7 separate regions of the Homo sapiens genome follow, and regions 1, 3, 4, 5, 6 and 7 are each reported to be linked to region 2. The links are microRNA targets in miRTarBase. Many come from high-throughput screens and were not tested one by one. Region 2 holds a microRNA gene; each other region holds the end of a gene's coding sequence.

What was found. The annotated mature microRNA hsa-miR-627-3p reads UCUUUUCUUUGAGACUCACU and lies in region 2 at 1,191-1,210, opposite strand. An mRNA with a match to its seed (bases 2 to 7 or 8) in the 3' UTR can be bound and repressed. Matches are read on the target gene's strand: a 7mer-m8 pairs with bases 2 to 8, a 7mer-A1 pairs with bases 2 to 7 and ends in A, and an 8mer does both.
Region 1: miRTarBase lists RALGAPA2 as a target of hsa-miR-627-3p. The part of its 3' UTR that is shown has no 7-base or 8-base seed match.
Region 3: miRTarBase lists ZSCAN25 as a target of hsa-miR-627-3p. Seed matches in the 3' UTR shown: 7mer-m8 at 1,628-1,634.
Region 4: the mRNA of ASH1L is a reported target of hsa-miR-627-3p. Seed matches in the 3' UTR shown: 8mer at 1,929-1,936.
Region 5: the mRNA of WDR75 is a reported target of hsa-miR-627-3p. The part of its 3' UTR that is shown has no 7-base or 8-base seed match.
Region 6: miRTarBase lists TAS2R30 as a target of hsa-miR-627-3p. Seed matches in the 3' UTR shown: 7mer-m8 at 3,541-3,547 and 7mer-m8 at 3,513-3,519.
Region 7: the mRNA of METTL16 is a reported target of hsa-miR-627-3p. The part of its 3' UTR that is shown has no 7-base or 8-base seed match.

Annotation. Positions count from the first base shown.
Region 1 is chr20:20,393,128-20,397,194 of GRCh38, forward strand. RALGAPA2 (Ral GTPase activating protein catalytic subunit alpha 2) reads right to left here. Exons shown (of 40, transcript NM_020343.4): 39 at 3,568-3,607; 40 at 1-126. The coding sequence ends at 3,603. Among named protein-coding and RNA genes, the nearest start is that of INSM1, 27 kb to the left of the region's middle. RefSeq lists enhancers at 1-862, 1,657-2,201, 2,202-2,745 and a silencer at 3,118-3,412.
Region 2 is chr15:42,198,403-42,202,469 of GRCh38, forward strand. It overlaps MIR627 (microRNA 627), which reads right to left and starts at 1,264; the gene lies at 1,168-1,264. It overlaps VPS39 (VPS39 subunit of HOPS complex), which reads right to left. Exons shown (of 25, transcript NM_015289.5): 2 at 1,494-1,559.
Region 3 is chr7:99,629,773-99,633,839 of GRCh38, reverse strand. ZSCAN25 (zinc finger and SCAN domain containing 25) reads right to left here. Exons shown (of 8, transcript NM_145115.3): 8 at 1,432-4,067. The coding sequence ends at 3,820. Among named protein-coding and RNA genes, the nearest start is that of ZSCAN25, 15 kb to the right of the region's middle. RefSeq lists an enhancer at 3,357-4,003.
Region 4 is chr1:155,334,310-155,338,376 of GRCh38, reverse strand. ASH1L (ASH1 like histone lysine methyltransferase) reads left to right here. Exons shown (of 28, transcript NM_018489.3): 27 at 1-288; 28 at 626-3,109. The coding sequence ends at 717. Among named protein-coding and RNA genes, the nearest start is that of MIR555, 10 kb to the left of the region's middle.
Region 5 is chr2:189,474,817-189,478,883 of GRCh38, forward strand. It overlaps WDR75 (WD repeat domain 75), which reads left to right. Exons shown (of 21, transcript NM_032168.3): 21 at 397-736. The coding sequence ends at 601. Among named protein-coding and RNA genes, the nearest start is that of WDR75, 35 kb to the left of the region's middle.
Region 6 is chr12:11,129,646-11,133,712 of GRCh38, forward strand. TAS2R30 (taste 2 receptor member 30) reads right to left here. Exons shown (of 1, transcript NM_001097643.2): 1 at 3,313-4,067. The coding sequence ends at 3,640. The region is part of intron 1 of PRH1-TAS2R14 (PRH1-TAS2R14 readthrough); the gene reads right to left. All of the region lies in intron 1 of PRH1-PRR4 (PRH1-PRR4 readthrough), which reads right to left. It also overlaps a transcript of PRH1 not described here. Among named protein-coding and RNA genes, the nearest start is that of TAS2R30, 3.0 kb to the right of the region's middle.
Region 7 is chr17:2,416,461-2,420,527 of GRCh38, reverse strand. It overlaps METTL16 (methyltransferase 16, RNA N6-adenosine), which reads left to right. Exons shown (of 10, transcript NM_024086.4): 10 at 1-4,067. The coding sequence ends at 558. Among named protein-coding and RNA genes, the nearest start is that of MNT, 17 kb to the right of the region's middle.

The DNA of each region.
Region 1 (4,067 bases), not on the chromosome of region 2:
TACAGCAACGAAATTTCCTGGAGATTCTGGGTTTAGTGGCTCGGGGCAGAGGCAGGAGAGGGTGTTCTGTCTCCTCCTCACTCAGGGGCTCTTCGAGGTCAGCACTCAGACTGGAGGCCAGGGCCCCTGCAAAGGAAGCAGAGAACTGCTAAGTCATGGAGGCAACGGCGGCTCTACGGCCACACATTTCAGGGAGGATCTGTGGCACTCAGAAGGGAGGGAAACTCCCAGGAGAAGGGTCTGGTGACCTCCTCCCACGCTATGCCGGCAAAGATGTTTGTTGAATGAATAAACACATGAATGTCTTTCTTCTTATTCTTTGCCCTGGGCTTTTCTGCAGCATAAAAGAAGCTATGAATCTTGTGAAATTAATTCAGACTTACTGTCCAATTCATAAGTAAAGAATGAAGAGAAAAGGCATCTGGTCACAGTGAAAGGGAGGAAGAGCCACTGAAGAAGCAGTGGCTGGAGTCAATGGAAAAGCCCGTGAAACTTCAGAGGCCGCTCTGCAGATCCCTGGCGGTGTTCCTGGAATCTCCACGTGTTTACATATCGATATTCTACACAATGAGTTACAACTCGATTATTCCCCAAAGGGTCTAAGACTAGAGGTCAGTCCTAAATTGCTTGTCTGAATGAGTCCAGATGAGCATACAGCTGTTCATCACTGGAGGGAAAAGGAATAAAATTAAAACCTGCACATCTGCACCCCCCGCTTCCCCAGGGCTGCTGTCGGTGTGCTCAGAGGAATACAAGAATGCCTGCTGCAACACCAAGCCACTGTTGCGGGTGGAGCTGGGTCTCCCCTAGCACCGTTCTGCGAGCGAGAGGATCATTTCATCACCCTTCCCCTCGTAGTGTATTTTTAAACCCTGTTGTATTATGCCCCAAGTTTCCTGCATGACCTCTGCTGGGAACCAACCTCAGAAGCAGAGTTTCCACATCTTCCTCCCTGCGTGATTCACTTGCAGGGCTTTGGCCTTTGAAATTATTATTATTATTGGCATTTGAAATTAATTTAAGTCAGTTATTTTATTCACAGACGCATCTTTTTTCATTCTCTGACCTTCCCTTATTGTTTCTAGGAGGAGTTTCCAAAATCAATACTTGCAAACGTGCTTGGACCTATGGAGGCAGCCTGGCTCAGGGTGTCCTGAAATTCAGTACTTTCAGAGTCCAGGGGCTTCATGGTTGCCTCCCTTCTTCTAGGCTCAGTCAGGTCGGGCATACAGAGAAGGCTCACTATTCTCATCTTTAAAACAGGCTGCAGCCGGGCGCGGTGGGCGGATCGCTTCAGCCCAGGAGTTCCAGACCAGCCTGGGAAACACAGTGAAACCCCGTCTCTACAAAAACATTGCAAAACTTATCCAGGCATGGTGGTGCGCACCTGTAGTCCCAGCTACTTGGGAGGCTGAGGTGAGAGGATTTTGAGCCTGGGAGGTCAAGGCTGCAGTGATGGCTTCACTGCACTCCAGCTTAGGTGACAAAGTGAGACCCAGTCTCAAAAAAAAAACACCACACATGAAAAACCTCAGAACACAAAAACAGGCTGCTTCTGACAAAGGCAGCACAGCTAGACCATCATCCACAAGAGAAGCTAGATTGTTACAAGGCATCTCTCCATCCCCTCGCAGCTGGTGGTGGGCACTGGCATTTAATCCAGGGTGTGGGGCAGCATGGGAGAACAGACTTGATTTAATCCCAGACAATATTCCAACAGCCCAGCCCACTATGGTAATCAGATTGATTCTAATAAATAAGCAAAAAAAAAAAAAAAAAAAAAGGCAAGTAAATGAAAGATATAAAGTGAGATCCAAAGAGAAAGAGCGAACCTTTGCTAATTCTGGATTCGAAGGAAAACATTTTAGTTCCTCTGCCCCACCCACTCACCCAGGGAGGATAAAGAGGGAAAGAGGGGTGCACCTCGAGTTCCTGCAGATGGACAGAGGAATGCCAGCTTTGTCCCGCTGAGTGAGCCTGGAGAACAGCAGGAAGCTCTGCAGAGAAGGGGGCCTGTGCACCTGAAAGCAGGGATCCCATGGCCAGGGGCAAAGGGCAAAGCCACCCCTGCAGCTGGGCTGCAGCCAGTGCCACAGTGCCCTACACAGGCCTCTGGTCCCCAGCTTTCTGCTGGGACATTCTCATCTGCACTGGGCCCTCGTGCCACAGCACCCCGTGGTGGGGAGGTGGCAGCTGCAGGACAGGTAGGCGGGACACAAGGTACGGCCGCCTTCCTGATATGACACGTCCACTCGCAGCTTTGCTCCACTCGCACTGCCTCCTCCCGGTGATGGAAGCCAAGGATTTATTCACAGGACACTCGAACCTCACCTCCCCACTTTGGCGGCAGGAGCAGGAGGACATGCATGGAGACGGGGGTCTCGGCAAATGCGAAGTTTTGCAGCAAGGTGCCCTGCTGGGAGGGGACTGTACAACCCTTCTCTGCCCCATCTTGACATGAGCACCTGGGCTCTGAGGCTCGTGTCACCTGTTGGGGCTGACACGAGTGAGCCCAGTTTGGGACAATATCAGGACTGGGCTTAAGCCTTGGGTGAGGGGAAGAGAAAGGGCAGCTGGCTGGAGGGTCGGCTGGCTGTGATGCTGGCTGCTCCTCTGGCCTGCAGGTCCAACAGCCCTGCCTAGCAGAGGAGGGTGAAGGTTTGGATAAACCAACAAATCTGGACCCTAACATCCCACTTCCATATTTACTGAGACAAAGTGACTGGTGTCTGTGCCTTGCATTCCACTGTGGGCGACAGGCTCAGGAACGGCAGCTCGCTCACTTGCTTTCTCCTGTGAATGGCATTGCCGTGATCCTTGTCATTACCAACTGCTCGCCTTCCGCCTGTGAGCCTGGGAGGTGGTGCAGCCCAGGCCACACGGGACAGGGTTTTCAGACAGCCTTGCCAAGGCGGCTGCCATCCATCAGAGCGCTCTGGGCAGGGCCTGGACCCCAGACCCAGGACAGAAAGGCAGGCTGGGGAGGTCACACCTGCCATGGCCAGCCTATCCTCTGGGTCCTAGACCGCAGCCCATTCCTAGGTCTCCACCCTCTGCGCTCCCGCAGCTTTTGTCCGCTTTTCCTTCCCCAGCTGTTCCATTCAGCAGCCCCCGCCACAACCTGCCCTCCCCGCATGGAGGTCTCAGAGGCCTCCATTAAGGCTGGCGGTCAAAGGCCGGCCCAGCACGTGCCGTGTCTTATCGGCCCATCTCAAGACCCTGCTCCTTCAGGCCTGGGCAACAAAAAAGGGGGCGGCCCCAGCGCCCGCTGGCTCCCTGCAGCCCCACACACAAAAGGGCAGGCGACAAAGACATTTTCCGGGATGGCAGGTGTTGGTGTCGGATTCCTCCCCGAGTGCACGGGCAGAAGAAAGGCAAGGCTGGGCTTCCCCGGGCAGCGCAGACATGCAGGGGCAGGAGTGTGGGCAGGGCCCCCGGGGAGGGGAAGGCCCAGGAGGGCGAGGAGCACTGATGCAGGGTCCGCTACCGAGGGCAGCCGATTAGAAAAGTCCCACCCCCTCCCCAAAGCAGGGTGGCTGGACAAATCCACTGAAGTGTCTGTCTTACCTTGCTCAAATATTGAAATGAGACCTTTACGTGTTTTAATCTGAAGGGAAAGAACACAAAATGGAATGAATACAAACACAACACCCCCACAGCTCCAACTTGATAACTAACACAGTGCTAATAATACATTTATCCCTGAGCTGCCCAAGCATTTCTGCAGCCTTGTCAATCAGTAAAAACTGAACATTCACTTGAAAATTCTACTTGATAGGACAAAATACAAGCCGATGTCGTGTTTACAAATGTGAAATGAGAGAGACATTAGAACTCCCAGGATCTACGCATGCAGACCTTGTCAGGATCTATGCATGCAGACCTTGTCAGGAGCCCTACAGATGCTGAACAGCACTGACAGCTATATCCTTTCCCTGCTCTCCAACTTTTCCTGACTGATTTTGTTTAAAATACAAAGATAAAAGTGTTTTCAAGACAAGCATTTGAAATTCAATGGATGACCTGAAAAAATAATTGAAACCCCCTAGGTGGGCAAGTTTACATGT
Region 2 (4,067 bases):
AGCAATGGTGTGATCATAGCTCACTGCAGCCTCAACCTCCTGGGCTCAAGCGATCCTCTCACCTCAGCCTCCAGAGCAGCTGGAATTATAAGCACGTGCCACCACATCCAGCTAATTTTTTGTAGACAGGGTGTTGCCATGTTGCCCAGGCTGGCCTCGAACTCCTGGCCTCAATCATTCCTCCTACTTCAGTCTCCCAAAGTGCTGGGATTATAGGCATGAGCCACTTCACAGGCCATGAGAATTAAAAATTTAAAACATTAAAACAAAGATCAACAATGTACTGCTCCAGGGCCTAACTGAGGCCTTTGCATGTTTTTGTAAATAAAGTTTTATTGGAACATAGCCATACCTATTCATTACATATTGCCTACAGCTGCTTTCATGTTACAAAGGCAGAGTTAAGTAGTAACAACACTGCAAAGCCTAAAATATTTATTCTTTGGACCTTTTCAGAACAAGTTTGCTGACCCTGATTTAGAGGACAGTTGAAAAACTTAGAAATGAAATAAATTATCTATTTTGTTCTCTGGTTTCTTTTCTTACCCTGCTGCAGAAACTGACCAGGATATCTTCTCTTTCCCGAGTGCACTAGTAAGGTGCTTTTTCCCCCAGTGTTACCCTTGCTCCAGGTTCCACAAGAGAGCTCTATTTATCTTAAGCTATCTCTTAAGCTATTTACCAGAGAAATATATATTATATTGAAGGGTATGAAATTAACTGCAGATTTCTGTAGAGTGGCTCCAGGGCATAATACCTAAACACATCTATTCTCCATAAAGAGAGCACAGAAACGAAAACAAGGAAGGGCAGTGAGGTACTTTCTGCCCCAATAAAAAACACTCTTTAACAGAATACATTTCAAATACTTTAGTTATTACTCTACATTACTGACAGTCACATTTGATTAGAACTTTAGTTTTCACAGTTTCTTCGAGCCTATTATTGCATCCACCCCAACAACTTTGTGGGGCAGAGAGTTTATAGAAAACTGATGTTGGAAAGAACTTGCTCACGGTCACGCAGCCAGGGGGAAGTGCACATGAAGGCAAACCCTGGTCCTCTCTTCTTGTTCTACCCCTCATAAGCCAACAAGATATTTTAAATCGATGTTGCCTAATTTTTTTTCCTACCACCACACCATATATACAGGAAGCTTATGCCCATTAGTAGTATTTCTTATTATTGGTAGTGAGTCTCAAAGAAAAGAGGAGGAAAACAACCACCTCCTCTTTTCTTAGAGACTCACTACCAGTAATAAGTAATTCAGTAATAAGTAAACCAGCAATTCATCCTCACCTCCCAAATGCAGGTAGGGCAATACAATTTGGAGGAGAAAAACCCTAGGCATTCTCAAGTCTTCTCCCCATTTTCCCACCGTGCTCCCTCTAACCTTCAATCTCTCTTTTAATGGTCCAGGAATAACTGATTTCACAGTTGTATACTAGCTGACTATTAAAACTTATTTTTTTGCATGAGCAATGTGCACTTACCAACGTCCTTCCGAATCCTATAGAGAAGAAGATGTCCTTGTTTGGTTCCCACAAGAAGCCATTCCTCTGGAAAAACAAAACAAAACAAAAACAAAAACAAAAAAAAACCAGCTTTGAGAAAGGTCAATCAGCTTGAGTATAACCCTATTTTTTTAGCTGGGGCTTGTAATCAGAAATCAATGTGTCAAGAAAATGAGTTGCTTTTGATAGGAGGTGTTTTGCAAAGCTAAGAAATGTTTATACTCATGTTTGAAAATCAACCATTTAAAAACACATTTATTGAATAATTACTAGGCTAGACATATCAGAGGATAAAAATGTCCTGGCTCAATTGTTTTAATGTTAAACTAATAAAAAAGATAGAAGGGCTTTGTATTTTTAAGATTAAATTATTATGATTTTTATTTTTTGTTATATATACTTTTATTAAGATATATATCTTCAGATATATATTTTTAAATTCTGCTAAAAAGAATATGATGAAAGTTTATAAAATCACAAAATGGAAGTACAAATGTGAAACCAGGTATCCAACCTCAGCAATAATAGCTAAGAGGCATCCTTTAAATGCTTTTACTTTCAGGAAAATAAATGACGTAACATAATAAGCTTACAGAATTCATTATCTCAAAAGATAGTCTAGTAGAAAATATTTAATAACAAGTGTTGATGAGAATATAAAGAAATTAGAATCCTCATACACTGCTGGCAGGAATGTAAAATGGGAGAGCCACTTTGGAAAAGTCTAGCAGCTCCTCAAAAGGCTAAACAGAGTTACCCTGGGACCCAGCAATTCCACTCCTGGTTACACACCCAACAGAAATGAAAACATATTCTACACAAAAACTTGTACACAAATGTTCACAGCAGTATTATCTGTAATAGCTAAAAGATGGAAACAAACCAAATGTCCACCAACTGATGAACGGATAAACAAAATGTGGCATGTCTATATAACGGAATATTAGCTAACAATGAAAAGAAAGGAAGTATGGATATATGCTACAACACAGATGAACCTAAAAACATGATGCTAACTGAAGGAAGCCAGACAAAAGGCCACGTGATTCCATTTATATGAAATGTCCAGAGTAGGCAAATCCACAGAGGTAGAAAGATTAGCGGTTGCCCAGGGCTGGTGGGCTTGGGGGAAAATAGAAAGTAAATACTAATGGGTACTGAGTTTCTTCTGAAAGTGATGAATATGTTCTAAAATTTATTGTGCTGATAGTTGCATAACTCTGTGAATGTACTAAAAACCATTTAATTGTACACTTTTTTTTAACTTTTATTTTTTTAAGATAGGGTTCTACTCTGTTGCCCAGGCTAGAGAGCAGTGGTGTGATCATGGCTCATTGCAGCCTCCACCTCCCTAGCTCAAGTGATCCTCCCACCTCAGCCTCCTGAGTGGCGAGAAATACAGGCATGCACCACCACGTTCAGCTATTTTTTAAAAAATGTTTATAGAGATGAGGGCTCACAATATTGCCCAATCTGGTCTCCAACTCTTGACCGCAAGCAATGCCCCTTCAGCTTCCCAAAGTGTTGGGATTACAGGGGTGAGCGACTGTGCCCAGCCAAATTGTACATTTTAAAAGATGGTCTAGGCTAGTGGTTCTTAAACTTTAGTGTATCACAATTATTTGAGAGTTTGTTAAAATACAGAATGCTAGGCTCTACCCCGGAGCATCTGATTTAGTAGGTTTAAAAGTAGGCCCAGGAATTTTCATTTCTAACAACTTCCCAGATGATGCTGATGCTGGTGGTTCAAGGACCACATTTTGGGAGGCACTGGTCTAGGTAAAAAGAGGCTCAGAAAGAGTTTAAATAATTACCCTGACAGACCCATATTACATCATTCAAGGAAGGTAAGCATGTACAGATACTTCCTTAGCTTTTTGATAACATAAAGGTCACTCATTCCTTTCATAAACTCTCTTGATTCTTGACCTCTGTAAAATAAAATCTTGGATAATGGTACAAATAGATAACTTTTATTGAGCATGTATTGTGTTCCAGGAAATGCTAAACGCATCTGTTATTTCACTAATCCTCACAACTATCCCTTGAAGTAAGTCCTTTTTTCAAATCCCCATTTTATAGATGAGGAAGTTGAGGCCTAGGGAATATATAACTTTTCCAGAGTCACACATGTGGCAAGCAGCAGAGTTGGGATCCCAACCCCAATTTGTCTTGATTCCCAACCACATGCTGTGATGTACTTACTAAGGCACCCATGTCAAAAAAAATGGGTGTCAGCCAAAGGTTGTCTGAATGGCAGTAGTTATATTTATAAAAACAGGTCAGCACCTACATTCCTTATCCAAAGGATCAATAGTATTTCTCCAGGATGATGTTCTTAGTCATCCAGAAAAACAGAGTGATTCTATTTTCTTTGATTTGGGGTCTTAAAGGAAAGGCAGGTCACACACAAAAAAAATGTTGAAATCAGAAATAACAGCAGCTCTAATGAAGGCTGGAGATTTATGCTGCAGCAGAACATGAAAAAATAAAAGAATTCATTTTGCAATATTTGTTTTGTAAAAGATACTATATTTAGAACTTTATAGATAT
Region 3 (4,067 bases), not on the chromosome of region 2:
GGAGCCAAGGTCCAGGGGCCTCCACTGGTCAAAGGTGAAATAATTTGAGCATCAAATTATAACTCCAGCAGACTGATCAATACCAAGTATGTTTAAATCCATGAGTGCAGGCCAGGTGCAGTGGCCCACACCTGTAATCTCAATACTTTGCAAGGCCAAGGAAGGGGTAGCACCTTAGCCTGGCAGTTTGAGGCTGCAGTGAACTACAATTGCACCACTGCATTCCAGCCTGGGTGACAGAGCAAGACTCTGTCTCAAAAAAACCAATAAAAGCAAAAAGCTATGAATGCATTGATTTCTACAGACTTGACTGCCTTTACAGGAAGCAAAAAGTAACTAGCTCATTATTCTGAAAACAGGCAAATAAAGAGGAGGATCAAGCATTTTCTTGCCTTCCCTGTATGAACTATATCTAAGGGTAACCTAAGTTAATGAAGGGAAATTTCTTACAATATTCCAACTACTAAATGATGAAGCATTTACAGAACTAACGAAAGAAGCAGATCTAGGCTTCTAAAATCATATGAAGAGAAACAGGGCATGTCACAATCTATAATGTGTTCTTGCCAAAATGTGAAATATGAATCTGATTACACCACTAAACACTTCTACATTTTTAGATAATACAGAAGGCAGGGAAATATGTTAAATCACGCCATGGGTATGCAAACAGAAAATGCAGAATGATTAGCTGGGCATGGTGGCACATGCCTGTAATCCCAGCTACTTGGGAGGCTGAGGCAGGAGAATCGCTTGAACCCGGGACAGGGAGGTTGCGGTGAGCTGAGACTGTGCCACTGCACTCCAGCCTGGGCAACAGAGCGAGACTCCAGCTCAAAAAAAAAAAAAACAACAGAAAATGCAGAATGTAAAAAACTCTCCAGGATAAATGATCGAGTTTTTTAAAATGAATAAATCTCAAGAAGAAAAGGATAAGTACTACAGATTATAAGCCTTAAGAGACAAAGCAACAAATTATATTATATTGAAAAATTAGGTGGGTTCTTAAAATTCACTGGATATTTTGACATTAAGGAACTGTTTTGTTTTGAGACAGGGTCTTGCTCTGTCTCCCAGGCTGGAGTGCAATGGCACAATCAGGGCTCACTGCAACCTCAACCTCTTGGGGTCAAGTGATGCCCAGCCTCAGCCTCCTGAATAGCTGGGACCACAGGCATGCACCACCCATGCCCAGTTAATATTTGTTTGTAGATGAGGTCTCACTATGTTGCTCAGGCTGGTCTCGAACTCCTCTCAAGCAATCCCACCTTGGCCTCCCAAAGTGGTGGGATCACAGGTGTAAGCCACCACACCCAGCCGCCCTTACCTTTTACAGGTACACACTGAAATGGTTATAAACAACACTTGGGATACACTTCGAAACTTCAGTGGGGGAGGAAGACGGGGAGGAAGGAGTGGACAGAGATGAAACAAGATTGATTATGAGTTTATAATAAAGTCAAATGATAAATACATAAGGATTTATTTATATAGGTTTGAAATTATCTATTATAAAAAAATTTCTAAAGAATAGAAAAATACAGAAAACAAAATATTTCTTAACATTTGAATAGATATGAAAAATCAGACTACCACAATCCCATGGGAAAAACCCCCTACTTAGAGGCTTTTCTGAGACACTGTCCTAAGCTCTTGGCCCCACAGGAGATAGGGAAGAGGCCAGATAGGAAAGTCAGCAAGGCCCAGCTCCTTCTGAAGCTTAAGATATGCCAACTTGCTGAAACCCAGAGGAATGCTGGCTGTGTATGACAAAAGAGCATCTGTGATTCAGGTAATGACAAGCAGCCCCCCGAGGCCTCCCCAGTCCCCACCTGCCTTTGGAAAACCACCCTCTGGGGAAGGCCACACTCAGGCCAGAAGCCTCCCACTGAGTCTGCCTGGCTGTCAGCCCTGCCTAGCTGCTCTGATAATTACGGGGGAAAAAAAGCTGATTTTGCATGTGGACCTCAGTATTACAGAGGAGCAGCAGCAGCCCCGTGTGGACATCTCAGATACATTTACGACCCAGTCAGTGCAGCCTCGTGGGCACAGCTAATGAGCCAGGAAGACCAAGGAGCGTCATTTGCTAAGCCAAAATTAGACACCATGCTGCCTAACAAGAACAGGTGATAAAACCACGTTTCAAAGTGGGCTGAGTAATACAGCTTTGTGTTAGTCATTACCATTTACCTTATTTACAATGGAAAATGAAAAAAAAAAATCTCAGTAAAAGAATCTGGTATTAAGAGGCATCAGAAGACAAACCACATTTTGCAATTATAGGACACTATCAACAAAGGACAAACTCACTCACTCAGCCAGGGTTCAAAGGCACAGCACAATGACACAGCAGTCAGTCCACGCTAGTTATGCAGCTTCCAGAACTTTAAACAGAAATGAAACCCTTAAGTGATGGCACAATAAGGAAGCTTCAACAGTTTACAAATATTGCATCTTCTCATTTTTAAAGAAATGTATTTTTTTTTAATGCCTACAAATATCTTTATTTTTCCTGACTTGGCACTCATGCAAAACAGGTCGCTACCAGCTCATCATCCCCAGTGGGTGTCCAGGACCCCTAGTGCCTTGGATGACAAGGGTCTGGAGGGCAGAGACCATTTAGTAACAAGAGGTAGGTGACAAATGCATTTCAGGGCAAGATGCTGACAAAGCAATGAATACAGGCCCAGAGGATTTGCAGGAATATCCACGGGTTCTGAAGATCAGGTACATCCACGAGACATAAGCTCTACGAGGTCAACAGCTTCTCCCCCTATTTTATTCATGGATGTGTCTCAAGCACCCAGAAGAGTTCCTGACATGTTTGTTACAGGGCCTCAATAAATACTTGGGAAATGGGTCCAATGAGAATGGGGTGAAATTAATTTTATGAACTATAAAGTGCCATCAAATATAGGGCATTAATACTAGAGTTCATCTTTCAGACTCATTTTAATTATAACAGTTCTTTCTAGAGAACTGTTTTTTAAAATACTCTGATGTTTATTCAGTGATCAATAGCAAAATACTAACTTCCTAATAGTTGGTGTGTTGACAGTTGTTATAGTGCAAGGAATAATGGACGGGGAAGTTTTACAGATGAGGATAGAATGTTATAGCCTGACACAGATGAGGCTCCAAATAATGTAAAATTCACACAGTTGCCTGGGAGCAGATCCCAGCTGGGGAGGGAAGATCCAGCACGGGGCAGGAGGGCAGGAGTGGTCATGGGAAGATGTTCTCACGGGCACACAGCACAGATACCCTGAGAATGCCTCGGGTCATGGGCTGTCGCATGCATCCCCAACGCACAACCCCCAGAGGCATCACGTCTAGTCTCTCATTCACCACGGCATTCCCACGGCCAGGTGCTCAGAGGATGTTCAATAAATGTTTGTTCAATGGAAAAGAGAGGGGGTGGGGGAAGAGTCTGAGCTATGACCCTGCAGGCAAGACAGAGCCCTCAGGAAGATGAGGTCCCAGCTACCAACACGTGTCAAGGTTTTGCCTTTACTCCCAGCTTTGTTCGGCAGGGGGACACAGACAGTCCACTGAAGGAGAAAATCTCAGCCTGAACTGAACCGCAGGAGACTGCTTCCCTCAAACATTGGAAGAAAAATTGTTTAGCACCACTTGGGTAAGAGATGGAAGCAGCTATGCTCTCTGGAAGCTCTAAGTAAGCCAGGCCTTGCCTTTCCCGCGTTGGCGAATGGGTGGGAAGGCGATGGGACCAGTGCTTTCCTGCAGCCATCACCTTGCACCCCGCAAGGCCCTGCAGTGAGAAAGATGAATGATGGTGCTGCCTGCCACCTGCTATGCTCACTGCACCAGCGGCTCCTGGCGGTGCTGGGTCTTCTGGTGCCGGTTGAGGATGGACCTCTGGTTGAAGCTTCGCCCGCAGGCAGGACAGTGGTAGGGCTTCTCCCCTGTATGGATTCTCTGGTGTCGGACCAGCCGCTCCCCTTTGCTGAACCGCTTCCCGCACACCTGGCACCCATATGGCTTCTCGCCAGTGTGGGCACGCCGGTGCACCGCCAGATTGGCATTCCTGCTGAAGCTCTTGCCAC
Region 4 (4,067 bases), not on the chromosome of region 2:
CTGAGCGCTCAAAGCCACCCCTAAAAGACTTGGGCCAGGAGGATGATGCTCTACCCTTGATTGAAGAGGTTCTAGCCAGTCAAGAGCAAGCAGCCAATGAGATACCCAGCCTGGAGGAGCCAGAACGGGAAGGGGCCACTGCTAACGTCAGTGAGGGTGAAAAAAAAACAGAGGAAAGTAGTCAAGAACCCCAGTCAACCTGTACCCCTGAGGAACGACGGCATAACCAACGGGAACGACTCAACCAGATCTTGCTCAATCTCCTTGAAAAAATCCCTGGAAAAAATGGTAAGAAGAATCAGGTTCATATCTAGGGTTTAAGATAAATGCGAAATGAGAGGGAATGGAAAAAAATTGTAATTACTGGTTCAGCATCCAAAGTATTCTAAGAAAATGGTATAGTTCTTTTATAGGCTTGCTTTTAGTTGTATCTTGGTAGTGAAACTGGAAGGTGAGATGATCTCCTCTAAAGAACCACCTTTTTCACGTAGGGTTGGAGGATGGGCTAAATTGCTTATAGGTCAGAAAAGGAATCATTGAGTTCGTGTGCTCTCCTTAGAGCTCAAATCTGGAATAAGGAGTAGGAGATTGGTATTTTGATGAGCCTCCTTGGTTCTGTTTTCAGCCATTGATGTGACCTACTTGCTGGAGGAAGGATCAGGCAGGAAACTGCGAAGGCGTACTTTGTTTATCCCAGAAAACAGCTTTCGAAAGTGACCCTCAAAGAATGAGAACCTCAAGCATCTGGGATCCAGTGGAGCTAATCAGTCCTGCCTCCTGCTCTCTGGGTATAGACAGGGGTGGGAAGGGTCCATCTGGGCAAGGGGAATGGGGCCATGTTGTTGACATTAGGTACTTAATAAGCCTTGGAGCTAGTGGAGAGGGAGAGGAAAGGGTTCTGTCCAAGACAGTTCAGGTTAATTAATTTTCTTCTCCATTGCTTCACCTTAAGGGTTAATAATGTAGAGAGGAGGGAGGACCACATTGATGACCAGAACCTACTGGTACTTTATAGCATTTGCCCCACCCCACAGCTTAGGTTTTTCTGTCATCCTCAGATCCCACAGGCATTGCGAAGAAGCTGCTTCCTATACCCAGGTATAACTCAAAATCCAAAGGGATAGGGCCAGGATCCCTATTCCTACCCCATCTATTCTCTGTTGGCTCCAAGAGCTACCCCAGAGACCTTAAACAGAAACAGTAGCTGAGGCTTCTTCCTAGATACCTGACTAGGGAAGTTTGTCTCTCCTTTCTTGCCCAACCAGGTCAAAGTAAAATGTGAGTTGACAGCTCAAAGCACTTGTAACTGCTGCCCCCTCCCTACCTCTACTCCCCAAAATGGAATCATGGGATAGGGAAGGCCCCCATGGGGTCAGAAGGGCACGGTAGTTCTTGCAATTATTTTTGTTTTACCCTTCATAACCTGTCAAACATATTTTTTTCTAATGAGAAAGCCAGGCCCCCGCCAGCACACATGCTGTTTTTAATGCGCTGTAGTTCTTGTGTGTCTGCTGTGCTGTGCAAATGGAGATTCAGTTCAAAATAAAATCATTTAAAAACCTACATAAAAAGAACTCTAAACCCACCCCTGCAACAAAAGTCACTACATAAACTGTTCAGCAGTATTCACCTATCAGAGTATTTGTTGTGAGTATAGATTATCAATTGAAAACACTACTCTTGTTTTCTTAATTGTACAGTTTTCAATGTCCCTTTCTTAAAGAGACAGTATATTTCTCTTCACCCCTAGCCCATCTTCCCTCACCCTCCTGAATGACATCAGGAGGTATATCCAGGGTGTCTCCTTCCTTCCTACTCTCTTGACCAGAAGTTAACAGACTATACTGTCTCTTTAAAAATAAAATTTAAAAAGCTTTGTTGTCTTTTCAGACATACATATGCATATATGTTTTAGATGTTCTTATAAGAGAAAAGATGGTTTTTAAATGTGCCAAGTTGTGTGTGTGTGTGTATATATATGTGTGTATGTGTGTGTATATATATATGTGTGTGTGTATATATATACACACACACACACACACCTGCTGTGTGATTGGTAAGCAATACAATAGTAAACATGTCCCCATTACTTTTTTCTAATATTGGACCAATGCTGTCCTAATTGTACATTTCCCCTTATGGTGACGATGCTCTGACTCGTTTAGGTAGACACATTGACCACCTTCCATTCCATTAAATATTTTTTCCTTTTTCCCCTTTCTGTGTCATTCTTGAGGAAAAAACAAAAGAGAGAGGGGATGCCAATGATCCCCTTGAGCAGAGAAAAAGCAAAATAAATATTTTATTAAAGAAAAAAGAGAATTAAGAAAATAGTTTGGAGTATTTTCTTACTGTAGAGAAGCACTGTACATTACTAAGAGACCTGGGTATAAGATACTCACATGTGGAGCTGGAAAAATCGCATGTCCAAGCCCGTTTGAGTGGTTTCTTTTGTTTTTCATTGCAGGGAGTGGGTGGGAGGGAGGTGGGACTAGGGGCACTTTGGGGGTCTCCTTTTAGTCAAAAGCGAGAAAATGACAAGAAAGAGATTAAAATTCAATGTTTCCTTTATAGTGTTAAACACTAAAATTTTAAAAAAGATGAAAAAGAAAAAAAAACTTTGTAAAATGCGAGAACAGAAGCAAAAGACACTACGCTCTGTCATTTTATCTTTCTTTTGTTGAAAGACTAAAAAAAAACTGAAATGTTTTTTAGACAATCAAATGTTAGGTAAGTGCAAAAACTTGTTTTTTCTTACTGGTGTAGAAATTAATGCCTTTTTTTATTTTTCAGTTATTTTATAATAACGAAATAAAAAGAACCCCCCAGCTGCCAGGCGGGTTTTGGTGTTTGAAATGCGGGGCAAAGCACTACATCACTGCAAATAGATACAGAGTTAGTCTGCATGTCTGTAGGCTGTGTGATTGCGGAAAATATAAATGCTGCTAATATATTTCCTTTTTACAAAAGCATATCTAAATAGATGATTGTTTTGATGTTAATCTTTGTAAATTATGTATTACCAATTTTAACATTGGATGTAATTGCATACAAAGCTTGCATCTCAATCCTTGAAAGTCTAGTATTAAATGGAAAAAACTTTTCCTAACTGTGGACTGATGAGCTTGCTATTTTTTCCTCCTTCTTATCCCCCATTTATCTTCCAAGACAACCTCATCCTGTTTCCAAGGGGATCTTTCTGAAACAACATCATAAACATGCTAGGCTGCACATGAGCACACTCACTGCCGTTGACTACTGGATAAAGTCATTTCTTCAGTACTAGGATCTTTCTAGTCTGGACTCAGCCTAATCAATCAGCACAGTAATAACACACACCAAATGTCCAGTTGCTTTTTTGTTTTTTGTGTTTGAGACAGAGTCTCCCTGTTACCCAAACTGGAGTGCAATGGCACAATCTCGGCTCACTGCAACCTCCACATCCCAGACTCAAATGATCCTTCTGCCTCAGCCTCCCAAATAGCTGGAACTACAGGCATGCACCACCATGCCTGGCCAATTCTTGCACTTTTTGTGCAGACGGAGTTTCACCGTGTTGCCTAACGTAGTCCAGCTGTTTTGTTGGGTTTTTTTTAATTTTTTTGTTTTTGAGACAAGGCATCACTGTGTTGCCCAGGCCAGAGTGCAGTGGCACATTATAGCTCACTGCAACCTCAACCTCCTGGGCTCAAGCAATCCTCCCAACTCAGCCTCCTGAGTTGCTAGGACTACAGGGGCGCACCACCACGCCTGGCTAATGTTTTTATTTTTTGTAGAGACAGGGATCTCCCTGTGTTGCCCAGGCTAGTCTCAAACTCCTGGGCTCAAGTGATCCACTCAACTCAGCCTCCCAAAGTTCTGGGACTACAGGCATGAGCCACCACGCCTGGCCCAGCTGTTTCTTTTCTTTTCTTTTTTTTTTTTTTCTTTTTTTTTTTTGAGATGGAGTCTCGCTCTCACCCAGGCAGGCGTGCAGTGGTGCAACCTCGTCTCACTGCAACCTCCGCCTCCCGGGTTCAAGGGATTCTCCTGCCTCAGCCTCCCAAGTAGCTGGGATTATAGGCGCC
Region 5 (4,067 bases), not on the chromosome of region 2:
GTTCTTAAGACAGGTTTGGACACTCTCTTTTGGGAAACAGGATCGTTTGTGTTTATCCTTTTTTAGAGTATTCTTCCACTGTATTTCTTTTTATTTCATAAGTTTTAAAATAGATTTAAAGGCTATAGGATTATTAAGTCAAGTAACATACATTGAAAATAAGTTTCAAAAAAGATCTTGTATGTGTGTGTTTTAAGGGCTTGGTACATAATTTAAAATTACATGTTTGTAAATTCACCTGCTCTTTTATAAATAACCCATAATTTTTAAAGTGTACTTAGTAACAAAATTCTTCATTTACTTTGTGTGATTATATTTCTACATAGGTGTCAAATTAGAAAGTTACTGTTTAGAAACATTTAATAGTGTTTATATTTTATTCTGTTATTGTTAAAGTGCTAAGGAAATTCCTGAAGATGTAGATATGGAAGAAGAAAAAGAAAGTGAAGATTCAGATGAAGAAAATGATTTTACCGAAAAAGTCCAGGATACAAGTAACACAGGTTTAGGAGAAGACATTATACATCAGTTGTCAAAATCTGAAGAAAAAGAACTGAGAAAATTTAGGAAAATAGACTACAGCTGGATAGCTGCCCTTTAAGCCTTGGAGATGGGGAGGATCCTTGGACTTTGTGTTTTTGATTGTATGTTGATATTCTAAAAACATCTATTTTAATGTTATTTCTGTTCTAAAAATAAGATAATAAATATTAACAAACTTTGCTTTTTTAAAAAACTGATAATATGAACATGTATTTGCATCATGCTTTACAGTTACTGGATCATTGATATACCACATCATCTCATTTTTTTATTTTGAGTCACACATCAGCCTTATAAAACAAGTAGGTATTTTCTTCACAGGTGATACAGCAGAACTGAGACTTGAACTGTACAGCATATGTCCCCTAAGCTGCAGTTTGGAGATACGAAAAGATTTGAAAGTTAAAAGGCTTTGTTGACATAATTGTTTTAACACAAATTCATTTGGTGGCCAAATGTGACCTGAGCTGGAGTGAGGTTTCTTTAGTCCTGATTTATTCCTCTTAGTGTATTTATTTCTCTCAGAGAAATTTAGAGACGAGTTGATTATGTGGTGTTCCACAAACCTCACTGAGGATATTATATAATAATATGGGCTGCCTAAAATTCTGAATTCAGATGATCTGACCCAAAGTCCAGTTGCTAGTAGAAAACGATCCAGATCCCCTGTTTTAGTTAAAGCAGTGAAGCTGCTACATCTTAACCACCTAGCATTTTGAGTTTTCCACTTCCCTAATGCACTTTTGTAAAATTTATATTTAGAAGTTAGCACAAAAACAAAGCGTTTGTAAGAGCACATCTCAATGAATGTTCACAAAAATTGCTGCAAATGGCTTTTTAGTTTGTGCTGTAGACCAAATGTTTGTTGTGCCCCCCTAAAATTCAAATGTTGGAATCTAATCCTCAATGTGGTATTTGGAGATGGGGCCTTTGGGAGATGATTAGGTCATGAGACTGGAGCCTTTGTGAATAGGATAAATGCTGTTACAAAAGAGACACTGGAGAGCTTCTTTGCCCCTTCTAACACGTGGGGATACAGCAAGAAGAAAACCATCTGTGAACTATGAAGTGGGGCCTCACCAAACAGCAAATCTGGTGCCTTTTTGTTAGACTTTCCGACTTCTGGAACTGAGACATAAGTTTCTGTTTATAAACCACCCGGTCTGTAGCATCCTAAACAGACTTAAAGTGTTTTTGAATCACTATTTATGTAAAATCTTAACTTTTTTTTTTTCAAGTCCCCAACCCCCACCTCGGACTCGTAAGTGGCTGGGACTACAGGCACTCACCACCACACCTGGCTATTTTTTAAATTTTTTGTAGAGATGTCTTGCTATGTTACCCAGGCTAGTCTCAAACTCTTTGGCCTCAAGTGATCCTCCGACCTTGGCTACATTTTTTAAAAATAAGCTACATTGAGATTTGAGATGTAACTCACAAACCATACAATTCATGCATTTAAAGAGGAAAATTTAGTGGGTTTTAATACGTTCAGTCTTGGACACCATCACCACAATCAATTTTAGAACATTTTCATCACCCCAAAACTAGCCATTTCCCTCAGCCTCCTTCACCTCACCAACAATGCAACAACTCATCCTATCTCTGTAAATTTGCCTATTCTGGACATTTCATGTAAATGGACTCATACAATATGTGATCTTTTGTAAGTGGCTGCTTTCATTCAGCATCCATGTTGTAGATATATCAGTACTTCATTCCTTTTTATTTTCACTTTTGTTAGTATACCTATGAGGGGAATTACTGGGTTATTTGGTAACTATGTTTAACCTTTTGAAGAACCACCAGATTTTACATATCAGCTGCAGCATTTTACATTATTTACATTATGGCACATAAATTGCTCCACAGTCATCCGTTAAATTGAGTCCCTTTCTACTGGTGGTGGGATGGAAGGTGGAAATTAAAAAAAAATTGAGATCCCTTTCAGGGGTGCTTTTGTTGTTTTAAGTCTATTTTTTTAAGGGTAGTTTTAGGTCAAGAAAATTGAAAGTACGGAGATTTCCCATATACCCTCTCCCCCAACGCATGCAATAGCCTACCCCATTATCAACATCTCTGGTGCACCAGAGTGGTACATTTGTTACACTTGAAGAACCTACCTCAACCCATCATAATCACCCAAAGTCTAATTTGAATTAGTGTTCAGTCTTGGTGTAATTCTGTGGGTTTATGCAACATATAATAATATGTATCCATCAGTATAGTATTACACGAGTATTTTCACTGCCATCAAAATGCAGCGTTAGTTTTTGAGGCCAGCCTTTGAGGTTTGTTCTGATCCCAGGAGGACCCATTTTAGCTGTCTCTTTCCTTGTTTTCTTTGTTTCTGGTAAACTAGCTAGTTTATGGTTTAGCTTGTTGTTCTAATGGAGCTACCAGTCTCCTCTTAATTGCTTACCACCCAAATCCCCATTGTTTTTGAGGCTTATGTCAGAACTGTATTCTTATGGACTGCCTCTTGCCCCTGGGCAAGATCTCTGAGCCACTGCTCCAGAACCATGAGTAGGCACAAAGGCCCAGTTCTCTCAAGAGTGACACCCCTGCTTTACAAATTGAGCAGAGGCAGTAGCCTACAAGCAAGCTGGGGCAGTGGCGACCAGAGCTCCAGTATTCTTAGCCTACCATCCTTGGAGTAGAGGCTCCACTCTGTGAGTAGGGTCTTGGTGAAGGAAGAGAGATTCCAACCTCTGGCCTGGAATTTAGCCTCTGCAACAGAGAGTTGGAGGCAATGAGAAATGCTCACAGCTGAGGGGAGAGGAAGCTCTGTCTTTTTGGCCACGGCTGCCCAGAATGGAGTTCCTATCATGCTGGCTGAGTTGAGGAAGGAGAGCTTTGTAACTTGAGTGTCACTGTTCTTGCCACCAAGATTTATTAGAATTTCTTGAATAAATGTTTCTTCATTTGCTGTATACCCTTAAAACAATTTCTGAAGACTTTTTTAATTTATTTTTGAGACAGAGTCTCCCTCTGTTGCCCAGGCTGGAATACAGTGGTGCAATCTCGGCCCACTGCCACCTCCGCCTCCCAGGTTCAAGCGATTCTTCTGCCTCAGCGTCCTGAGTATCTGGGACTACAGGCACCAGCCACCACACCTGGCTAATTATGTATTTTTAGTAGAGATGGGGTTTCACCATGTTGGCAAGGCTAGTGTCAAACTCTTGACCTCAAGTGATCCGCCCACCTGGGCCTCCCAAAGTGCTGGGATTACAGGCCTCAAGCCACTGCACCCAGCCAATTTCTGGAGACTTTAAATGGCTAGGTTTTTTAAAGTAACTTTTACTGATTACAGTTGTTCTGAGGAGCAGGTCCATGGATCTCAGACTGCCATTGAAGTAGACCTCTCAAGTCTCAGTTTACATTTTCTTCTTTGCCTTTTTTTTTTTTTCGTTTTTTTCTTATTTCTTTCTGTGCACAATTTGTTGAAAAAATCAAGTTTGCCCTGTGAGTTCGTCACTGATTTTGCAGATTGCTTTCATGGCTTTTAACATGACCCTCTGTAT
Region 6 (4,067 bases), not on the chromosome of region 2:
TCTTCACTGAGCAGAGCAGAGCTTCTGGTACTTTTTGTGGGGCTAGTGATTTGGTGAATGGTTCTTAATCTACACCCATTATGAGGGAAAATCAAAACAATTTGCCTTGTAAGAATAATAGCACTGCTTCACTGTTGTATGTCAGGGCTATGTCACTTCTGTTCTCAGTTTAATTTACATTTTTTAAAACATCCTGCCAGTTTAATGTATTGATAATATTACAGACCGGGCCCTGTGGCATATGACTGTAATCCCAACACTTTAGGAGGCCGACACAGGCAGATCACTTGAGCCCAGGAGTTTGAGACCAGCCTGGGTAACACGGTGACATCCCAGCCCTACAAAAAATACCAAAATTAGCCAGGCATGGTGTTGTGCCCCTGCAGTCCCAGCTGCCAGCAATGCCGAAGTGGGAGAATCACTTGTGCCCAGAAGGTTGAGGCTGCAATGAGCTGTGATCCTGCCACTGCATTCCAGCCTCAGGGACAGAAAGAGACCGTGTCTCAAAATAATACCAATAATAATATATTAGTTGGTACAATAATCAGGAAATGGCAAGTTTCTTCAGTATAGTAAAATATTATAACATTGAGCAGAAGTAAAATACCAGAAGAAAATAGATAAATCAGAGAAGATTCAGGGACCGACAACATAGGTGATGTTTTAAGGTTTTTAGTGTCCCTAGTCCACATGCTGAGACAATCTTTTTTACAGTAAACGGCATTTTGCTCTCTCTATATATTTCCTATCACTACAAAAGAGACACTATGTTTTGGGGGCCTACTGGGATTTTGGAGACAACATATTCCACATTTGAGAATATTGCTCTGACTCACGAACGATGTTTCTAAAGGCTACTGGTCTCAAATGGAGCCCAGAACTAAAGAGGGCTCTACAGAAGATATAGGCTCTGGTCCAGGCTGCTCTGGCCACTGTGCCAGATGATCCAGCGGAATTCAAAGCTGCTAGAGGCATGCATAGTGGGCATTATAGGACTCTGTGCATGTCTCTGACAAGCCTGTAGGAGAGGGGAGAGCAAATCCCTATGGAATCAGTGTAAGACCAGTGTAAGACCATTCCCTCTTCAGCAGAGGGAATGCTGAAGTATACTCTGTCTGAAAAGCCAAACAGCAAGTGCAGAACATTAATCCAAGCATAGAGTCACTCTAAGCACAAGCCCCTATAAGCACAAAACCCTGTACAACTGTGCAAGTCATATGCTCATAAAGCCAGCCATGACTGGAGGGTATGAGCACGTCTCAGTGGCACAAGGAGTGGTGGTATTGGACACAAACATGTGCTTTCTCAGATTCCCTTCACTATCTCCTGTTCCCCTGGTCAGCACCTTGCCTGATCCAGATCATCCTTCCATTTGGGACTTGAATGCATCACCACACTGTGGGCATGAGGTCTGACTTTCATGACCACCACCAAGGGACTGGATGATGTAAGACAGAACAACAGAGATGGTAGTTCTAACTCAGGGAAACCCTGGCCAAGGGGAAACAGAAGACTAACGACAGCTGAGCAGATACATTCTCCCTCCTCTCTCTCTCTTCCATGGACTAATGCCAGCTGTGGTTTCCCTTTGTAGCCCTTCTGGAAAAGTTCTGGGAGTCAAGTGCATGCATCTGATGACCACCATGCTGTCTCTCTCACCTCACTGTGAAGTGGCTGCCAGCAGTCATACCAGACATCACCACACATTGTTTCACATCGGTTCTTGTCTCAATTTCCACATGTCCCTGCCATTTTTGTCTTGAATTGGCCTTCCATATAAATGTCATCACTTTAATATCAGGTATTACGTTAAAAACATTTTAGTAAAGTAGCTGGTTACTAACTCAATTTTTTGAAATGAAATGCCATTTTTATATGATAATCAACTAGAAAATATCATAATACAAATATATAATTCACAATAGAAAAAAATACATACGCAAATAGACCAAAGTCTTTTATATGCTTTTTTAAAATATTGTAATAGTGGCATCTAATTTTGATGTTCTACCTTGTCGCCAATTCAGACACCTGATACAGCTGCATCAAGACTATATTATTGTGATATTTCCCCTAAAATTGTGGAATAGCCAAACTTTTCCTCTGAGGAAGGATTCTGCTTGGATAAGCCTGTAATCTTAACCTGAGACCAGAACAGGGGAACTCATGCAACTGCAGATTTTGTGATGAGTTTCCCTTTCATTGGTTTACCACATCAGCTTACCCATTTTATCCACCCATTTATTTGTTCATTAAAATATCATTTTTGACCATCTATTCCTTGTGCTGGGTTCTAGGTCCTGGGAGTCAACAGAAAGCCTGACAGACACGATCTCTTCTTTTATGGTTCTTACATTGTACTGAGGAAGATACATGATTCTAAAAAATACATGAATCAGGTGTGGGGATGATTTATCTTAAGGTCTGAACAACATTGTTAAAATTTCATAACACCAAGAATTAATACAGTCATGTAGAATTTAGCTGTAAACAAGACTGTACATTTCCTTCTTATAATAGAACTTCCCATTAATGAATATGTCAAGACAATTCCATTTAATCATTGACAACAAAATTACACTAGGACAAATCCCATAATTAATACATAGATTTCATAGATACTATTTTAACACTTAAAAAAAGTTTCACTGAATTATTTTCCATAATTTTTATACTATTTTCACATTGACAGATTTTTTTTTAGAAAACGGAAGACTGGAGTTCTCTTATCTGAAGTTTAGAAAGAATTTTAAAAATGGAAGATAAGGATATAATTAGCAATTCAGGGGCTTAGAAGTGCTTTAGAAAAAATACTAAAATAATTTACATCTGAGCTCAATTTCAAAAAAAGTTTTTCTTTAATTGAAAAGCTGGAAGAAATGACTGTTCTAACTGCATATGGAAGCTGATAATAGCAATCAAGATCATGATCATGATTTTTCATCCCTCTTATAGCAGAGATTTTTTTCTAAGCTATTCACATACTTGTATTAAATCTAATATTCCTCAGTACTGTTTATGGTACACATACATGAAATTTACTATACGTATACTTCTCACTCAAATTTTATTGTGTTCATTGTTTTGTAACAATAATTCTGATTGCTTTTTACTAAACATAAAATAGGAATTCATAATGGAATAAAACCCTGAAGATACATCCTCATTAGTGATTAAGAATTGAACGACCTTATTATCAAAAAGTTATAGGTTAAAACAACAGATTGTAAGCACACTGTGGTATATTTGTGTCATTCAAATAACAATAGAAAAGAGCAATATTTTTCCTGAGATAAGCTGTTAGTTCTTAATAATTATAAATAGATATAAATTCTACAAATGAAATATAAAATACATGTATGAAATAAACATGGCTTCATAATTGAGGAATTTTTGTCATATTTTCTATAATTTGGCAGTTTTTGTGAAAAAACAATAAAAAGCATGTTATTGTCAATGTTCTTCAGTTTTTCATACACACACACACACACACACACATCTATATATATGTACTTTTCTAGACTAACTTTAGGTAAAAGACTTTTCTAGGTATACATGTGGAAATTATTCATATACATATATTACAGAAAACCCAGTAAGAAATATAAAATGTTTCATACACCACCAGTTTGTTTTCTGCTAGAAGACACACAATGCCCCTCTTGTGAATCTATGGAGACGAAGGCTTCTGTCTTTCACCCAGTACCTCACATGCCGCAAAACTGAAAGAAAAATCTGCTTTAGCTTCTTGTTTCCCAAAATCAGGATGAATGGGTGGGTTGAAGGATAGCTGAATATAATAGCTTGGCAGAACATGAAGACAGGTTGCTTTTCCAGCCTCCCAAAATTACAAACTGATATGATCATGGACAGAAAGTAAATGGCACATAACAGAAGAAAGGAGGTCACAGTTTGCAAAGCTTTTATGTGGACCTTGGTGCTGGGATCTTGAGATCCTTTGCCATGGAGCTGCATCTTCTTGAGATGTTTACACAGAGAACAGATTAACAGCAGAAAAGATATCAGGGTCAGAGTGAGGGGTACAAAGTTTGCTAGCATGGTTAGAG
Region 7 (4,067 bases), not on the chromosome of region 2:
TGGATTCATTTAAGGAGAAAGAAAAGAGAGCGTGTGAGACAGCTGAGAGAAGTTCCCCGAGCTCCTGAGGACGTCATTCAGGCCTTGGAAGAGAAAAAGCCCACCCCCAAAGAGTCTGGCAATAGCCAAGAACTGGCCAGGGGCCCCCAGGAGAGGACCCCCTGTGGGCCTGCTCTGCGGGAAGGCGAGGCTGCCGCTGTGGAGGGCCCGTGCCCGAGCCAGGAGTCCCTGTCCCAGGAGGAAAACCCGGAACCCACGGAGGATGAAAGGAGTGAGGAAAAGGGAGGGGTGGAGGTTTTGGAAAGTTGTCAAGGCTCTAGCAACGGAGCCCAGGACCAAGAGGCTTCTGAGCAGTTCGGCAGCCCAGTGGCTGAAAGGGGGAAACGTCTCCCAGGAGTGGCCGGACAGTACCTGTTTAAGTGTTTGATAAACGTTAAGAAGGAGGTGGACGATGCCTTAGTGGAGATGCACTGGGTTGAGGGCCAGAACAGGGATCTGATGAACCAGCTTTGCACCTACATACGTAACCAAATTTTCAGGCTTGTTGCAGTTAACTAGAAACCTCCTGCACAGTTGGAAACGTGTTGATAGTAACTTGCTTTGGAGTGGCCTGTGGGGTGGCAAGAGGAATCCTACCAGCGGCCCATTAGTAGCACGATGTGGAATTATCTTCGAAAACAAAAACCTATGAATCTGTCCCCCACCTCCCCCCGCCTCCTTCCCGCTTTTTGAGTTACAGGGAGTCGTAGTGTGGTCATTTACAAGGAGGAATTGTGGTCATCAGTAACAACAGAAAGCCCTCAGTAAACTCCCGAGGGATTGCAAGCTGGCTCAAGCTGGCCCCTCAGCTCTGGACTGCCTCTGCAAGGTCAGAAGGGTTGTTTGTGGAGTCTGGGCTGGGCAGCACTGCCTAGAATATCATGCTGTCTCTGTCACCCAAGGGTGTTTCTTGAGGAGGGGTGGCTCTCTCTGCCTCCAGCTGGAGGCCCTGGTACCCTGTTCTAGGTCACTCTTCAAGATGGGGCCTACCTTGCATCAATCCCACAAAGGGAGCTGTATGGTGGGTGGTGGGGAATCTGGGAGAGAAACCTTAGTAATGCTGGGAAGGAGCAGCAGAGTCTGGGGACCACCCGGTAAATGGCACATTCCTGACACCTGGCTGTTTTGATGTTGCTTATTTCAGAAGCAGAATTAGGTAAGCAAAACTCCCCGGTGTGACTGAGGCACACAGAAGGCACCCATACCCCCACCTCCAGCCTGTTGACAGTACCATTTTGTAGCAGTTTTACTACTGTGTGATTTTTGTTTGGACATCTGAAGTAGAGCTTGTTTTGTTTTTAAATAAGAATATTCACAAATTAAAAACCAGCGGTCCTATTTGAATCCTGGGGTTAGCTGAGTGAGCGGCTGATGATAGAAATGAGAAATAGAACAAAATAGTATGTGCCGTAGGTAGCTTAAGAAAGTCTCAGATATTTTGTTGCTGATCAAATACTGTTTTTTTGTGGCTTCACTTGTAATCCCCCCTGTACTTACCTACTCACATTGGAGAGTTCTGAGGCCGGAGTAACTGTGTCCTTGAAACACGTTTCTAATTGGAATGCCAGGGTTCAGTAGCCGTCCCCCCGGAAAGGGGTGACCTTTTGCTGTGCTTGATGTTGCATCAGCAGCCTAGGGTTCTGTTTAGACTAAAATCTTGGCCAGAGCTCCTTGCCATCTGCTAAGAAGACTGGGGCTGAGTAGTTAAGCCAGCCTTCTGAGAGGTGGCTGTTGGTCAGGACGGGAAGCTGGTGACCTTGGCATGTCTTGGCAGCAGCTAGATCAGGCCCTCGGCAGAGACACAGGAAGCGGAACTGCTGTGCCTTAACTTGGCTGTGGAGCTGGAGCTGGAGAAGGCAGCATACTGACCAGTGGCTTTTTGATTGATTGTTTGTTATGAGGTGGAGTTTTACTCTTGTTGTCTAGGCTGGAGTGCCGTGGTGCGATCTTAGCTCACTGCAACCCCCGCCTCCCGGGTTCAAGCGATTCTCCTGCCTCAGCCTCCCAAGTAGCTGGGATTACAGGCACGCGCCACCACGCCTGGCTAATTTTGTGTTTTTGGTAGAGATGGGATTTCACCATGTTGGCCAGGCTAATCTCGAACTCATGATCTCGGGTGATCCGCCCACCTTGGCCTCCCAAAGTGCTGGGATTACAGCCGTGAGCCACTACTCCCAGCCTCTGACCAGTGTTCTTAACCTGGTCCGTGGACCTCCAGAGAGTCCATGTACCTCCTAGAGTTACTTCTAAAAGCTCTGTGAGCATGTGTGTGTGTGTGTGTGTGTGTGTGTATTTTTTTTCCTGGAGAGAGGGTTCCCAGAACCCTCAGACACAGACAAAGGGGTCAATAACCCACTAAGGATTAAGAATCATTATTCTAGTCCAAGCATTCATGTGTCAGGCTGCAAAAAACAATACCCAGGGTCACACAGAGCCAAGACTCAATTCAGGACCGTGGATTCCCCTGGTCTAGAAATTTTCTGCTGTGCCAGCCCACACCACCCCACTGTCCTTACCTCGAGTGAATATTACATTTGAGTCATTTGCTGGGCCCAAACCTAGTTTCCTTGGTATAATTTTAGGATAATTGTTTAAGTGGCAACTATTCATTCAGTAAGTAGTAAGTACTTATTGTTTGCTTGTTTCATTATGAAAGAGTGGCACATGCTCATTAAAGATTTGGAAAAATGAAAGTCAAAACAACAAAATCACCCCGAGTCCCAACCTTCTGTAACATAACCACTCTTGGCATTGGCGTGTTCCTTTCTAGTCTCTCTGTAGACGGGGTGTGTGAGTGTGTGGGTTTAACTTTGGTTGTCCTCATGCTGCGTATTCAGTTTTGTATTCTGGTCCTTTGTTCATTTAACATCTTACAAGTATTTGTCCATGTTGTAACAGTAGTGTATTAGCTTACACTCCTTGCCTGTTCAAAATGTCTTTCAGGCACAGCACTGGCCTTTAAGCCTGTGTCGTAGGGATTTCCAGAGAATGCTCTGTGTATTGAAGCACAGAAGGTGTTTCTGTGTCTCAGTGTGTTTCTGTCCCTAGGTTTAAGGCTTCATGTCATGGAGGAGATTTTATAGATGTCAAGCTAATGACCTTAGAGTTTTAAAAAATCCGTGACCGTGGCCAGGCGCAGTGGCTCACGCCTGTAATCCCAGCACTGTGAGGCTGAGATGGGCGCATCGCATGAGGTCGGGAGTTTGAGACCAGCCTGGCCAACATGGCGAAACCCCGTCTCTACTCAAAATACAAAAATTAGCCGGGCATGATAGCACGTGCCTGTAATCCCAGCTACTCGGGAGGCTGAGGCAGGAGACTCGCTTGAACCTGGGAGGTGGAGGTTGCAGTGAGCCGAGAATGCCACTGCACTACAGCCTGGGCGACAAAGTGGGACTGTCTCAAAAAAAAAAAAAAAAAAAAAAAAAAAGGAACCCATGAGCAGGCCAGCTTTCAGTCTGGAGCCGAGTGCCTTCTGTGCATTTGGATGTTTCCATTTCCTTCCCTGAGAAGATTTTCTTAGGCTACCTAGTGAGAGAACATTGAAAATATTTTTAAAGGACATCTAAGCATTGTTTTGGTCATGCATATGCTTTATAATTGTGTGTTGTTTCATAGCATATACCTCTGGTACAGGTGGGCAAGTTTTTCTTTGAAGAAATGGGTTATTGACTCATATGTCATAACCTTGAGTGTTACTCTCCCGGTGTCCAGAGGTCACATTCATGTTGCGGGGTTGGTATGAAATTAAATCTTGGTGATGTGACCCTACATTCTCTTCTGGTCCCTAGAATCGGCTTCTGGTCTCCTGATAACTGAAGTGGAGACAGAAGTTGAGCCTGTTGCCCAGGCAAACTAAAGCTGCTTTTGTTCTTCGGAATCTGCTTTGCCTCCGTCAGCCTGCTTCCTTCCCCACACATGCTGGCCGCACTGTCCCCACTCCAGACCTCTGCTGTGTGTCCTGGGCAGGGCCGCGTTTTGGCAGTACCCTTTCAACTCATCCTAAGCTTCGTGTAGATTACTTTAGT